2 separate regions of the Homo sapiens genome follow, and region 2 is linked to region 1. Evidence: fine-mapped expression QTL. Tissue or cell type: whole blood. Region 1 holds a variant in brackets; the other region holds the start of a gene. All regions are shown on one strand. Distances are between the middles of the regions.

The links. PIP is the estimated chance that this variant, and not a neighbour inherited with it, causes the effect.
Region 2: it holds the start of RCVRN, and the variant in region 1 is fine-mapped to the expression of RCVRN in whole blood (TOPMed, PIP above 0.99).

What each region holds. Positions count from the first base shown.
Region 1 is chr17:10,035,581-10,043,685 of GRCh38, reverse strand. All of the region lies in intron 1 of GAS7 (growth arrest specific 7), which reads left to right. Among named protein-coding and RNA genes, the nearest start is that of RCVRN, 130 kb to the right of the region's middle. The variant C/T (reference allele first, on the strand shown) is at 5,008.
Region 2 is chr17:9,901,200-9,909,300 of GRCh38, reverse strand. It overlaps RCVRN (recoverin), which reads left to right and starts at 4,030. Exons shown (of 3, transcript NM_002903.3): 1 at 4,030-4,501. The coding sequence starts at 4,121.

The sequences.
Region 1 (8,105 bases):
ACTTCAGCCTCCCAAGGTGTTGGGATTATAGGTGTGAGCTACTGTGCCCGGCCCCTTATGATTTTCTTAACATTTTATTTTTCTCTAGCTTACTTTAGGAATAAAGTCTGTAATATGGATAACATACAGAATACATGTTTATCAACTGTTTAGGTTATCGCTAAGGCTTCTAGTCAGCAGTAGGTTGTTAGTAGTTAACTTTTGAGGGAGTCAAAAGTTAGGTACAGATTTTCAACCACATGGGGAGATGGGGGTTAGCACCTCTAAACCCTCGTGTTGTTCAAGGGTCAGCTGTACTTATTTCTTCTTGTATCCCCCCTCTTCATTTGGTTTCTCTGCCTGATTCTCAGAACTCACATCGTTCATTCCCCATGTAGCCCCTGAGTGTTGAGCACTAGTCTGGTTAGAGGTGAAAAAGATGAAGACCTGGTTCTTGCCTTTGAAAGTCTTGGAGAGGGGCCCTGGGGGTGTTGCATGCACTAATGAAAGGCACAGGAGAGGGAGGGATTGGGCCTGAGGCATGCTGGGGGAGAATAATTCTTCTCCCACTGCTTAAGCAAGAGCATGCCCCAAGGTTCAGCTCAAGGTCCTTTCTTTCTCTGTGAACTCCTTGTCAGCCTGTAGGATCTCACCACCATCTCTGAGCAGATGCCTCCAGCTCCAGCTCCATGTGCCAAGGGCCAGACTCACCCCTACTCCCCACCGAACACTTTGAACTTGGATCCATGGTCAACAGACTCTACTGCATCCCCCTAAACTGGCTGTCACCATAGCCACATCTCTTCGAGTTACTGGTTCGAACTTCTGTCATTTCCTTCCGAATCAACTTCGCTGTCTCTCATTTCCTTATGTCCCGTCCTTTATCAAACCTTATTCTGCTTCGTACATCATGTTCCTCGGGCTCCAGTCAAGCCCTTGTTTTTTATCCCTGCTGTGAGGCAAGTTCTTTATCTTTTGGGAAGCCTCCCTGTACCATCCCAGCCAAGAGTGACCTCGCCCTCCTCTGGATTCTGAAAGCTCTTATTGTCTGCCAGCTTATCACATAGCATTTGGCACTGTTGAAGACTCCTTTGATACTTATTCCTTTTTTTTGCCCATGTTTGCGACTTAGCTTCCGAATTTTAGGAGTCAGGTCCTACATACAATACCTGCCTGCATCCCACACAGGATTCAGGAAAGGGTAGTTAGTAACTATTAGTTGGTTGATTGATCATGCAGACAGGGGGCCACGTATGGAGGAAGGGGGCGTCCCTGAGACCCTGTACCCTAGAGACTGCTTGGGCTGATGAATAATTTTTCCGTTCATGACTGTGAAGCAGTTACAAAAGTGAGTCATCACCCTACCCAGATGTGTTTTCTTATTAATTATCTTTTTTTTTTTTTTTTTTTTTTTGACGGAGTCTCGCTCTGTCACCCAGGCCGGAGTGCGGTGGCACTATCTCAGCTCACTGCAACCTCTGCCTCCCAGGTTCAAGTGATTCTACTGCCTCAGCTTCCCAAGTAGCTGGGACTACAGGCACGTGCCACCACGCCCAGCTAATTTTCGTATTTTTAATAGAGACAGGATTTCACAATATTGGCCAGGCTGGTTTTGAACTCGTGACCTCATGATCTGCCCGTCTTGGCTTCCCAACGTGCTAGGATTACAGGCATGAGCCACCGTGCTCGGCCTATTAATTATCATTTTAAGACAACCCAATTCATCCTACAGAGGACAAGGGCCTACAGCAAATAAGGCCTATTTTGGTTGACAGTTTTCAACTTGACTGAAACGAAAAAAATAATAAGAGGGTTGGTCTTATCTGATGCCGTTGAACTCAGGAAAACTCAGGTTGGTGGAAATATCATCAGTCTTTTTGCTTTGGGATCACGGATTCTCTGCTGTCTGCCGTTCGTGTGTGTGGCTTCATATGTAGCAACCTATCTATTTGCAGAGGCCACAAGGAGAGACCAGTAGCGTGTTTTTCACGGCCAACGCTAATCACTAAGGATGGTTAATAAAGGAAAACCAAAGTGACTTCTGGATTGAGATGCTAGGATGAACCCAAACAGTAAACCCTTAGAATGTATTCGTGAGTCTTCCATACTCTGAGAGATTAACTTTGGGGAATCCTAAAGAATTAAATGTCTGCAGGACTAGTGTGTTCTGCTGAGGTCAGGCCACAGCAGATCAGCCTCCTGGTTTGTAATGGCCCGGAAAGGTCCCTTGCCCTTGGCTGGGGGCCCTACTGGGATTTGCAATGACAGTGATTTCTGTGTGTTGCCTGGAGTGATGCATTGTTGTCTGTGATTGTATCTGTTCGTCTGTGTGATGCAATGTCAAAGTGGTGTCGGAGACGGCTGTTAATGTTTAACAGCATCAAAACTGTCCCCTCTTTGCTGTTACAAAACTGAGGAGTCACAGGCTATGAAAGCTTTCATGGCCATTTTAATTTCACAAACCTGTAAGGACTGAAGGTGAAGGTCTTGGCCATCTAGGTTCAAATGAAGTTTTGCTTTTACCTTCTTCTTTTTTTTTTTTTTTTTTAGGCAGTCTTGCTCTGTCACTCAGGCCGGAGTGCAGCTGCACGATCTTGGCTCACTGCAACCTCTGCCTCCTGAGTTCAAGCAATTCTCCTGTCTCAGCCTCCCTGGTAGCTGGGATTACAGGCGCACACCACCACGCCTGGCTAATTTTTGTATTTTTAGTAGAGGTGGGGTTTTGCCATGTTGGCCATGCTAGTCTCAAACTCCTGACCTCAGGTCATCCACCTGCCTCGGCCTCCCAAAGTGTTGGGATTACAGGTGTGAGCCACCGTGCCCGGCCCGCTTTTACCTTCTTATGGGTGAGAGCCCATCTCCAAGAACAGAAAAGTATCTTGGTCCTGTCTATTTCTGTAGCATGTCTGACCTCAAAAGCGAGTGTGTGGATTCGTCACCCGGCCTCTCCTCCCACACTGCAGAGAGAAGATGCAAATAACTCAGCTGCCGGTGGGGGACTCCCCACCGCTGGATGTGATGCTCTTGCCTCCTCTTCATGGCTGGTTTGGGACCATTTTGCAAGTGTAGGCTTGAGCATTGCCTTTCTCTTGTTTTTATGATGGGTGAGAGGGGGGAGAGAGAAAGAAGGTGGGGGGGATTCTATAGCCGGTTTCCTCCCTCTAGTTTCTCCCTCACATTTGACCTTTTTATACCCTGGTATCATGATGATTTCTACAAAGCACAGCCCTGATTGTGACTTCTCCCTGGCTCAGAATCCACTGATGGTTTCTTCTCCTTTATAGAATCGAAATTTCTTAGTTCTTGGTGTCCTCATGGCCTCCCATGATCTGATGCCATCCTTCACTACTATATTTCTCACCTCCCATGCCTCTTAAACTCTAATGAATGGATCCACCTGCTTTTCCCCCACAGCCTCTACCCACACGGTTTCTCTCTCACCTTGGCTCAGGCTGGCCCCATGGCCTAGAATATTGCCCCTGTGGCTTGTTCTTCTGACCCATCCTGCCCAATCTCTCGCAGGAGCCTCTGTTTTCCTCTGTTAAATGAGGGCGATCATAGAATTTTCCTTTTTGGTTTGTTAGAGGGATTAAGTGACATGAAACATGTGAAGCATAGAACAGCGCCTGGTCCAAAGTGAGTGCTCAGTACAAGATCCTCACAGCCACTCCTGCAGCAGATTGAAACCCAGCAATTAGAGAGGGAGGAAGAGTCCCCCCAGCAGCCACGTCAGTAACTTTAGGAAGGAAGAGATGGGCCCTGCTGTCAGGCATGTAAGAGAAAAGACCAGGAAGGTGGGATGCGGACACAGAAGGAATTGATATGTCCAAGGGAAAGGCACATTGTCACCCCCTCTGGGAGCCCCAGAGGGTGCCACACCCCTAAACGGAAAATCCCTCGATTGACATTAGGATGCTGGCTGTGTCACCTCGGTCTCCCCAAGATTGAACGCAAGACGAGCCATGGTGAGTGAGTCCTGCTATAGGTGGCCAGCCTCGTCGTCTTTATTTATTTATTTATTTTTGAGACAGGGTCTCACTCTGACGTCCAGGTTGGAGTGCAGTGGCATGATCTTGGCTCACTACAACCTCTGCCTCCCGGGTTCAAGTAATTCTCCTGCCTCAGCCTCCTGAGTAGCTGGGATTACAGGCGCCCGCCACCATGCCTAGCCAATTTTTTGTATTTTTAGTAGAGATGGGTTTTCGCCATGTTGGCCAGGCTGGTCTCGAACTCCTGACCTCAAATGATCCACCTACCTCAGCCTTCCAAAGTGTTGGGATTACAGACGTGAGCCACCGTCCCTGGTCCCACCCTCATCTTCTAGGTGGGCTTTCTCTTCACCATTGCCAAGAGGCTGGGGCAGCTTCCCTCTGGGTGTACATGGAGAGCCTGAGGTGGTGTATCTCATGAAGCGGCTTATGGGTCACAGGGTCTTTTGATCTAAACTATCTCTGTGGGTCTTGGGGGCTTTTTTTTTTTAATCATGGCAAAATATGCATGACATGAAATCCACCATCTCCATCAGTTTTAAATGTATAGTTCAGTGGCTTTGAGTATACCCACGTGTTTGTGCAGCCATCATCACCACCATTAATCTCCAGAATGCTTCCATCTTGCACCAGTGACACTCTGGACCCATTAAACACAAACTTCCCATCATTCCCTGCCCACAGCACCTGGTCACCTCCATTCTGCAACCTGTCGCTATTAATTTGACTTCTCTAGGTGCCTCATAGAAGTGAAGCAAATGGTATTTGTCCCTTTGTGTCTGGCTGTTGCACTGAGCATAATGTCCTTAAGGTCCATCCACATGGTTGCATATGTCAAAATTTCCTTCCAATTAGCCAGGCATGGTGGTGCGCACCTGTAGTCCCAGCTACTTGGGAGGCTGAAGCAGGAGAATCGCTTGAACCCAGGAGGCGGAGCTTGCAGTGAGCCGAGATTGCGCCACTGCACTCCAGCTTGGGTGACAGAGCAAGACTTCGTCTCAAAAAAAAAAAAAAAAAAAAAATTCCTTCCTTCTTAAGG[C/T]TGAGTAATATTCTATTGTGTTTATTTTACTACGACTTGCATTGTTTCCACCTTCTGGCTCTTGTGAATAATGTTGCCATGAACAGGCAGCAAGACCCTCCCTTCAGGACTCTGCTTTCAGTTCTTTTTGGTATATACCTATTAATGGAATTGCTGGACCATATGGCAATTCTTTGTTTAATTTTTTTGAAGAATTAACACACTATTTTCCACAGGGGCTGTACTATTTTACATTCCCACCAGAAGGGCACAAGGGTTCCAACAGTTCTCAATCCTTACTAGTACCTGTTCTTTTCTGTTTTGTTGATATTTGTTTATTTGTTTGTTTTGAGACAGAGCCTTGCTCCGTTGCCCAGGCTGGAGTGAGAGTGGTGTGATCCTAGCTCACTGCACCCTCCGCCTCCTGGATTCTCCTGCCTCAGCCTCCCAAGTAGCTGGGACTACAGGTATACACCACCACGACTGGCTAATTTTTGTATTTTTAGTAGAGACGGGGTATCACCACGTTGGCCGGGTTGGTCTTGAACTCCTGGCCTCAAGTGATCCACCCGTCTTGGCCTCCCACAGTGCTGGGATTACAGGCATGAGCCATTGTGCCTGGCCTTGTCTGGTTTTTTTTTTTTAAGAACCTGTCCTAATGGGTGTGAGCTAATATCTCACTGTAGTTTTGATTTGCATTTCCCTCATGATTAGTGATATTGAGCATCTTTAAATGTGCTTATTGGTCATTTTTATATCTTCTTTGGAGGAATATCTTTTGCTCATTTTTTTAAATTGGGCTGTTTGCTTTTTATTGTTCAGTCTGGACTCTTTTTGGACCCGGGGTAACTGCAGTGCCTACCTTTCAGCCACTGGTGATAGTAACAACAAAAATCCTAGCTTTCATTGAGCATTTACTTCGTCCACTAGGTGAAATGTTTACATGGATGCCCCACCCCCACCCCCTTTAATCTCTCACAGCAATCTTTTGAGAAAGATACTGTGATCATCTGCATTTTACACTTGGAGAAATTGAAGCTGGAGCCGTTGCCCAGGGTCTTGGAGCTAGTATGTAGTAAAACAACAGCTTAGCTCTGGTCTGACTCCATCCTTAGACGATTGTACTTATTTTCTTCCCCCGACCCAAGGAGCTGGCATTGAAACCTCTTCATAAATAAGTTTATCCATTTGCTTAATAGGGAACCACTCGGTCCTCAGGATCTTGGTTTCTCTAGAAAACCATATTTAATTCTATATAAAGAATCAGTTCCTAAAACCCCAAAGGTTTGCATCTGAAAGCAAACACAGAAATATGCGGCATTTTGAGTGCTAAATAGTCAGCTGCTCCAAAAACCTTTCTAAACGGAGTGATAGGATATATTCATGAAGGATCCAAGCCCTGCCCAAGCTCATTTAGTTGGTGGCTGCAGTATTGCTCTTGGGGTCCAATCCTTTCTCCACTTGTAACTAATGACTTTGTGATCCTCAGGCCCCTTTCAGTGGAGACCTCACATGAGCCTGTCTTTGTTCGTTATCTGTCCAGGTTTGATGGTGGCGAGGGCAGAGTGAAGGCAAGAGACCTTCATCTCGCCCCTCTGGAGGCACCAGCTTTCCACACAGTGGTTCTTTGGGGGAACATTCTCCGTTCTTTTTATGTTGGTTTTTATCTGGCCTTGGGTTCACACAGCTGGGGCCGGGGCCGGGGCCAGGACCAGAGCTGTGACTTAGGGTTGGGAGGAAGTTGGCCAAAACATTCTCCAGCAGGGCTTGGGCAGGCCCAGGAAGTCCCGCCTAAAACACAGTGGACAAAGCTGCCCTTGTCCACAGGCCTGGGGGTGGGAGGCATCTGCTCAGTGACACAAGCTTGGCCATTGTTTGTTGTGACCTCAGCCAACGTTTTTTAGCTGAGAAAGGGGAAAAAGAGGGAGAGTGGGAAAAAAAGAAAGGCCTCCAGAAACATTGCATCTGGAAAGTCCAGAACAAGTTGTTAATTTCCCAGCAAGCACTGGAGCGGATTTGGAAGGAACTATGCAATGTAGTGGGTTCTTTGTGAAAGAACAGCAATGAGCAAAGCCACAGGAACCTCCGCTGGGGTGCCCAGAACACTGGCCCTGGGCTAGCGACTTGCCTCAGCCCCATTTCCCGGAGAGGCTGCCATGAAGAGGAAGCCGGCGGAGTCTTGGTGCTGAGTCTGAGGGCTTCAGGCAGGACCCAAGACTCTCCTCTGAGGTAGCAGCCCCCAGAGAAGGTTAGCTGTTCTCTGATGGTAAGAATTGATTTTTCTTGCCTGCAGATGTATGCTCCAGTTTGCTTTTCTCTGCATGTTTCTAAAATGACTGTGCCATGGTAAAGAGGCAGCTCTGAAAACTGAGATTTGGGGTCTAACTGCTGAGCTGTGGTGGTCTGGGGACCCTGTGTGCTAGGGGGCACCTTTCACAGATCCAAGGCATGAGCAGGGAGGAAAAAAAAAAAAGACGTGGGTCATTGTGTGAGAGATCAGGAAAAGCGGATGGGAGGAGGAGAAAGATTTATGAAGGATGTCTTGGAGAGAAAGGAAGTCTTGGCTCCCCTAGTTACCTGGGGAGCAGTTTCGTAGTTGGAGCTGTGTGATGGAGAAGCAGAGTGGTGATGTGATTTTAATGGAGTCCAAACCTTGCTTCCTCCATGTAACTTTTTCCAAGTAAGAAACTTGGATTCTACCCACCTATCTGGCTTTTACCCCACGGCCCAGTTCTAGCTGGGGCATTGTAAGGCAAAAGCCATTTGAGGACTATAAAACTTTATGAAGGTAAGTGGGAGCTCCTGGGGTCATGGCTCCCTAGCAGAAGTACCTGCCCAGTAATGCACTGTGCTTCCAGGCTTGGCTGAGACATCTTTCCAGCTTGGTGGTGGAGGCTGCAACAGTGATGATGGAAGCTCTTCTGATACTTAGCAGTACAACAGCCTTGTTTCACCAATCTTTCCACCCCCAGAAGTTACGCATCCATCTTCTTTCTTTGCAAAGGAGGACCTCCAAGAGAGTGGTGATCACTCTCTTGAGGCTCTGTACAGCTGTGAGAGGTCCAGGTTGCATGGAAAGGCTGGCCTGTTTTGGTACATGGTCTCCCTCCAGGATATGC
Region 2 (8,101 bases), 130 kb after region 1:
GGAGAAGTGGGCAGCCATAGTGCATGACCTGATTTCATGGCCATGGGGCTCACTGCGGGGCTGTAAGGGGACAAGAGCAGAAGCAGGAAGAGCTGTTAGGAGGCAGCGGTGATGCTGCCTGCACAAGGCAGGTGCAAGGGAGGCGGGAAGAACGGTCTGGTTCTGGATGTACCTTGAAGGTAGAGTCAAGATGATTTCTTGATAGATTGGAGTGGGTTGTGACCGAAAGAGAAACACTGAGAATGATGCCAAGGACCTCAATCCAAGTCATCAAAAGGATGGATTGTCATTTTCTGCAATGGGGACAGCTGTGGGAGGAGGGTCCTTCCCCATTCTCTGTCTCCCCCGCCACCTTCTCCATACCCCCTTTTCCCTCTCAATGCGGACTTCTCTGCAGGTGCTGGCTCCAGGCCAGAGGGCAGGAGGGTCGTCTTGGCCTTCAGCTCATAGCAGGCAAGGTCGAGCAATGGGGAAGGGGTGGCGTCTGGGTCCCAGCTAATGGCCAAGATGGAGCTCCTGCTTGAGGGGACAGGGCCAGCTTCTGGGAAGCATCTTTCAGTCCAGCGAGGAGAGCGAGACCAAAACTGGGATCCTCTGCCTGGAGATGAAGCCTTCTCCTCTAGAGCAGTCTTTGGGTTTTGGGAGAGTTTATGGCCCCAGCTCAGACTTAACAAATCGACTCACAATACATCATCTCCAACAACTTGTTTGGCTAAGGAGCATAAGCTCTCCCTCTGATAGAAGATGTTTATGCAGGTTTTCAAACAAACCTCCAGGTCATGACCCCTCACTCTCAGCATCAACACAGCTGCCTGCGGTCCCCTGGGGCCCCTCCTGGGCACAGCAACCTGGAGAATGTGGACTGTACCAGGCTGCTTCCGACCTGGGTCCAGCTCCTTCCTCCTTGTGCCTGGAGAGGACAGCAAAGACTGGAGGGCTCTGGCTGCCTTCTGCCTCGCCCAGGGCCTCTTTCATTGACATGGTAACCCCACCTCCTCACCTACTTGTCCTCTAGGCTCAGGCCTCCTGTGACGTAGACAAAGGAAGCCTAAATGGACAGGCTGGCAGACCTGGACTTTCCTTCCTTCTGGCATTGCCATTTAGCAACCATGTGACCCCAGGCTGGTGACATGCCTTTAGGAGGCCCCACTTCTCACTTGTAACACTGGCTTCGCCTCATCTGCTGCAGGCTTGATGTGGACAGGGGTGCGATCCAGGAGGCACTTCCAGTCGCCCCCTACTAGTGGCTCAGAGCAAGGGGCCGAGGCCTCTGACCTCACTCTCCCTCCATCCCCAGGGCTGCAAGGAAGCTCTGGAATGAATGCGATTCCAGGGTGTGGCTTGGGCTCCCGTTTGTTTTCAAGGCTAGTGACTGTCCTGTTTCTAACTGCTCTTGAGAATAAATGCACGCTACAGGATGGTGAAAGCCTAGGAGAGGAAGGACTCCTATTCAGAAGTAATATTCTCACTGGGCGCAGTGGCTCATGCCTGTAATCCCAGCACTTGGGGAGGCCAAAGCAGGCAGATCATGAGGTCAGGGGATCGAGACCGGCCTGACCAACAAGGTGAAATCCCATCTCTGCTAAAAACACAAAAATTAGCTGGGCATGGTGGTGAGCGCCTGTAATCCCAGCTACTTGGGAGGCTGAGGCAGGAAAATCGCTTGAACCTGGGAGGCAGAGGTTGCAGTGAGCCGAGATCGTGCCATTGCACTCCAGCCTGGGCGCAGAATGAGGCTCTGTCTTAAAAAAAAAAAAACAAAAAAAACAAACAAACAAAAAAAAAAAAACTCACAAAGTGATGGAAAAAAATTAGAAAGTTCACACACACACCCCAATATGCAGGTTTCCTGAGAAATCTCTGAAACTGTACTGGGCAGAGCGGCTGGGAGGGATGAGTCTGCCCCTTGGTGCCTGAACCTCTCGGTCCTTCCAGAGTGACATGAGGTGGGCCTGGCAGGTGGCTTTCTCCCAGCAGCAGGGACCTACCTTCTGCTGCCACTAGCCTGTTAGTAAGTAGGCTAAAATCCCCACTTTACACTTTGAGATGCAAGGCGGGCGGATCACCTGAGGTCAGGAGTTTACGAGACCAGCCTGACCAATATGGTGAAACCTCGACTCTACTAAAAATACCAAAAAAAAATTAGCTGGGCGTGGTGGCAGACACCTGTAGTCCCAGCTTCTCAGGGGACTGAGACAGGAGAATTGCTTGAAACCAGGAGGCGGAGGTTGCAGTGAGCCAAGATCGTGCCCAGCCTAAGTGACAGAGGGAGACTCCGTCTAAAAAAAAACCAGTTTACCTGCCTGGAGACCGTGGGGTTTATTCTTCATCATTCTCACCCCAGGGCAAAAAGAGACAACTCTCCATCCACGGTGGCAAGGCTGGGGTTCTGAGTGTGTCCCCTCGAGCACTGCGCTCCGCTAAGGAAAGTGCACGCCCACCCTCCCTTCCTTCTGGGTGACAAGAATCCAGGTGTGCAGCGTCCTCACTAGGTTGCTTCCTCGTGCTTGATACTCCCCGCTGAGCTGCACAGACGCGAAGCCTGCCTTTGCACAGCTCCGTCTCTGACCACTCAGTTATTTATCCATTCACTCAGCAAACACGTTTTCTTGCCTGCTCACTCCAAGTCCACTGCAGACGGACACCCTGCAGCCTGCCATGGACCCACAGATAGATTGTGTTTGGCCCACACCATGTTTTGTTTTGTTTTTGTTTTTGTTTTTGTTTTGTTTTTTTGAGATGGAGTCTCACACTTGTCACCCAGGCTGGAGTGCAATGGTGCAATCTCGGCTCACTGCAACCTCTGCCTCCCGGGTTCAAGCGATTCTCCAGCCTCAGCCTCCCAAGTAGCTGGGATTACAGTCACCTGCCACCATGCCCGGCTAATTTTTTGTATTTTTAGTAGAGACAGGGTTTCACCATGTTGGCCAGGCTGGTCTCGAACTCCTAACCTTGTAATCTCCCCACTCAGTCTCCCAAAGTGCTGGGATTACAGACGTGAGCCACCATTAAAATTTTGAATTAATTGCCAAAGTTGAAAAGTGTGGAAATTGCAAGAAAAATTCTGATTTTTGGATTTCTCTTGAATAATTTAAAAAAACCCAAAAATCTCACCATCCCATGTGACCACGTTCTCTGGCAGCCCCTTCCCGAGGTGACACAGGCCTGGCTGCCCCCTGCTGGTCCCTTCAGGCAGTTCACCTTCACTCCCTGTGACTGATGGACAATAACAAAACGAGTGTTTAGCATTAGCCATGTGCCAGTTTCTAAGTGTGTCAGACATATTGACTCACATCAGCCTCACAATGACAGTGTGGTAGATGCTATGATGCCCATTTATTCAAGAAAGACTTGCTGGGGGCCCAAGCCTATCAGGTTCTGGCAATGGAAATGCATCCGGGAACAACACAGACAAAATCCCATCCTTCACGGAGCTTTCATTCCGGTGAGGGGACATGCAGCGTGCCGATGATGGTGGGGGTTGTGCTATTATAGATAGAGGGTCAGTATAGGCCTGGCTGAGCAGGTGACATTTAAGCAGAGACATGACTGCAGTGAAGGTTTAGAAGAGTGTCCCAGGTGGAAAGAGGTGAAGAAACAAGCCTGGGGCCACACAGCTAGTTAAGTAGCCAAGCTGGGACTTGAACCCATGCTGGCCCCAGAGTCTGTGCTCCTAACCATTGCATTCTAGGGCTTGATATGAGATGCCAGCCCCGCCCCGAGATGCTCAGAGTTAGTGAGGAAGAGAAACAGGGAACATGGCTGCTGTTAGAGGGCTGGGGCTGGGGGTGCCGGAGGCCCCAGCTCTGAGGGTTCCAACCTCCTGTCCTGTTCTAGTATCGTCCCGGGAGGCCGAGATGAATTGCCTGCCTGCCCTGGGCTCTTTATTTTAATCTCACTAGGGTTCTGGGAGCACCCCCCCCCACCGCTCCCGCCCTCCACAAAGCTCCTGGGCCCCTCCTCCCTTCAAGGATTGCGAAGAACTGGTCGCAAATCCTCCTAAGCCACCAGCATCTCGGTCTTCAGCTCACACCAGCCTTGAGCCCAGCCTGCGGCCAGGGGACCACGCACGTCCCACCCACCCAGCGACTCCCCAGCCGCTGCCCACTCTTCCTCACTCATGGGGAACAGCAAAAGTGGGGCCCTGTCCAAGGAGATCCTGGAGGAGCTGCAGCTGAACACCAAGTTCTCGGAGGAGGAGCTGTGCTCCTGGTACCAGTCCTTCCTGAAGGACTGTCCCACCGGCCGCATCACCCAGCAGCAGTTCCAGAGCATCTACGCCAAGTTCTTCCCCGACACCGACCCCAAGGCCTACGCCCAGCATGTGTTCCGCAGCTTCGATTCCAACCTCGACGGCACCCTGGACTTCAAGGAGTACGTCATCGCCCTGCACATGACCACCGCGGGCAAGACCAACCAGAAGCTGGAGTGGGCCTTCTCCCTCTACGACGTGGACGGTAACGGGACCATCAGCAAGAATGAAGTGCTGGAGATCGTCATGGTCAGTCTCCCCTCTCCCCTTCTGGCTGGGCGGTGCCGGGGTCGCTCCGGGCTGGGGGTCCCCTGCTGCAGCTGCTGCAGAGGGAGTGGATCTGTGGGTGGAGCGGGGGATGCGGGCCACTGGCTCTGAGAGCGTGGTGCTCCGAGATGCTGATATTGATAGAGGGGTGGGCACTTGCCCACAGCTTCGTTGTCTTCCCGGAGCAGAATCTGAGTGTTTCCTAATACAGCCATGTTATGCTTGGCTTCACGATGTTTGGGTCAACAACGGACGATATAGACCACTGTGGTCCCATAAGATTGTAATGGAGCTGAAAAATTCCTACTGCCTAGTGACGTCATAGCACAGTTACTTTATTTTTCAAATGCATTTAGTGTAGCCTAAGTGTATCCGTAAAGTCTGTAGTTGTGTACGGTAATGTCCTAGTTCTTCACATTCACTCACTACTCACTCACTGACTCACCCAGAGCAACTCCCAGTCCTGCAAGCTCCACTCATGGTGAGTGCCCTAGACAGGTCTACCATTTTGTATCTTGGTTTTTTATTTTTTATTTTTTTGAGATGGAGTCTCACTCTGTAGCCCAGAGCTGGAGTGCAATAGTGCGATCTTGGCTCACTGCAACCTCTGCCTCCCGAGTTCAAGCAATTCTCCTGTCTCAGCCTCCCGAGTAGCTGGGATTACAGGTGTGCACCACTATGCCTAGCTAATTTTTGTATTTTTAGTAGAGACGGGGTTTCACCATGTTGGTCAGGCTGGTCTCAAACTCCCGACCTCCAGCGATCCGCCAGCCTCAGCCTCCCAAAGTGCTGGGATTTACAGGCATGAGCCACTGTGCCCGGCCCATTTTTTATCTTTATACTGTATTTTTACTGCATGATTTCTATGTTTAGCTATGTTTAGATGCACAAATACTTACCATCGTGTGACAACTGCCTGCAACATTCAGGACAGTCACGTGCTGCACAGGTTTGTAGCCTAGGAGCAAAAGGCTGGACCATGGAGCTCAGGGATGTAGTCGGCTCTACCATCTGTGTTCGTGCAAGGATGCTCTATGATGTTCCCACATAGAAGTTGCCTTAAGATGTGTTTCTCGGAATGTATTCCTGTCTCTGAGCGACACGTGACTATATTTACATTTTTTCTTTCTCTCCATCCTTTGTTTCTTCCTTCCTTTATTAAAATGTCCTTTGAAATTTTCAGCAGTACACATTCAAGTTGAATCACTGTTCATTCTAAACACACAATATGCTTCTAATATAAAGTAGAAAGAGGTCAAAGTTGGGGGCATGAACTCTGAGTTCTAGTCCTCATGTTCTCCCCAGCGCGGGGCGGATCATGGCACCACGCATGAGCCCCCGCTTCCCACGCGCGGCGTGGCTCCCCGGCTCCTGACAGTTTCCCTGTGAGGCGCACAGGCTTCCATATGGTTCCCAACACGCCTTCTCCCCTGTCCATACTGTCCTCCTGTCAGATCCTTTGTTGTGAAAGTAATGGCAAAAACCATAATTACTTTTCCACTAACCTCGTAGGTGTCTTGAAAATGGTTTATCTGATATAAAAGTAACTCATGAAATTTAGAAACCTAGGCAAAAGAGACTAACAATTGCCTCTAATTCCAACATCCAGGGAAAACTTTTCTTAGTATATCAGTATATACCTTTTCAGTCTTTTACCTATATAATTTTAAATAATGTTAAAGCTATGACATATTCACATACGATTTTTTATCATACATTTTTCAGTTACTCTTTTATCATGAGTGCTTTCCATATCATTACATATTCTTCCAAAACACTTTTTTTTTTTCTTCAGACAGAGTTTTGCTCTTGTCGCCCAGGCTGGAGTGCAGTGGCGTGATCTCAGCTCACTGCAACCTCCCCCTCCTGGGTTTGAGCAATTCTCCTGCCTCAGCCTCACGAGTAGCTGGGATTACAGGCACCTGCCCAGCTAATTTTTGTATTTTAGTAGAGACGGGGTTTCACCATGTTGGCCAGGCTGGTCTCGAACTCCTGACCTCAGGTGATCTGCCCGCCTCGGCCTCCCAAAGTGCTGGGATTACAGGCGTGAGCTTCCGCACCCAACCTCTTCCAAAACTCTTTTAATAGCTGCTTGGAATTCTGGCTTATGGAAATGTGGAAATTATTGAACATTCCTATGTTTTTGGACATTAGGTTGTTTCCATTTCTTTCCTATTATACCAGTTCTAATTTCCTTCATTTGATTTTTTTTTAATTTATTCTTTTTCAGTCCCCCTGCCCCTGCCACTTACCTTATTCTTCTAATTCCATTCCTGTTAGTAGAGACTATTGTTTAGATGTTAATAACTTTGTGTGCATTGGCAATCATGCTTTCATTTGCATGATGACAAATGCACAAAAATCTTCCACAGTTATTAGGAGAAATCATAAATAAAACAGCAGAGCATGCAGCTTGTGGTCCATGGGCTTATCCTCAATGCTCAGCTCGGGCCTCCCATTCTGGCAGGCATGTGTCTCTCTCATTGTTATCTTGGCACAGCCTGCAGAGAAAGCTCCCTCGGATTGGCTGTGGGGTCTCTGGGTGGCCTGGGACAGGGACTAAGTCTTCAGAGTGGCATAAACAATGCAGGGCCCAGCAGAAGCCTACAAATTGATACTCATTGAATAAAAGGAGGAGGAAAGGGAGGAGGGGGAAATGAGGGAGGGAGAGAGGGAAGGTAGGAGTCAGGAAGGAAAGAGGGGGAAGCAAGGGGAAGGAGAGAAGGAAGGGAGGGAGGAGAAGGAAAGGAGGAGAGAAAGGAAGAAAGAAGAAAGGAAAGGGAGGGAGGGAGACTCCATCAATGGCTGGGGCTGTGCAAGGTGGCAGAAGGCTCTGCTATTCACCAGATTACAAGTTCATGGGCAGAGCACTGACTGAGGGAGTTAAAAGTGAAGGGTTCTAGTCCCAGCTCTGACTCCAACTAGCAGTGTTGCTGTGGGAAAACCATATAACCTTCCTGGGCCCAGGGTGAGGATTTGATTATTTTTGCAGTCTTTCCTGAGGCTCTGGAGGTCTGTCCCTCCGTGTTGGAAGTGGGGTGGGCAGGCACTCACTGCCAGCTTCTAGCTGGCACACCTGCACATGGTGCCCAAGGCCCTGCACAGATGGATAGGAGTGTAGGAGCCACCTACACTGGCGTCCAGCTCAGGGCTTTGAGTGCTGCCAGCGACGCTGCTGCCCTGGGCTGTGGCTTTGGCCTCTTTACTCCTTTATCCAGCACCAGGGGGCTGAAGGGAAACTTCTCAAAGCTGTCGACCTTCCCTCCAGGATAATTTCACAGCCATTATTGCCCCTGCCTGACCTGCTCACAGGTGTCTCCGGGGAGGCAGAACGCAAATGGTTTGCGAATGTTTTCTCCCATTCCATAAGTTACATTTTGATTTTGTTCATTGTTTCCTCTGACATGGAGAAGCTCTTTAGTGTGATGCTATCCTGCTTGTTTATTCTGGTTTATGTTGCCTTTGCTTTTGGTGTCATATCCAAAAAATTATCGTCAAGACCAGTGCCAAGAAGCTTTTCCCCTACGTTTTCCTCCAGCAGTTTGACGGTCTGAGGTCTTATGTTTAAGTCTTTAATCCATT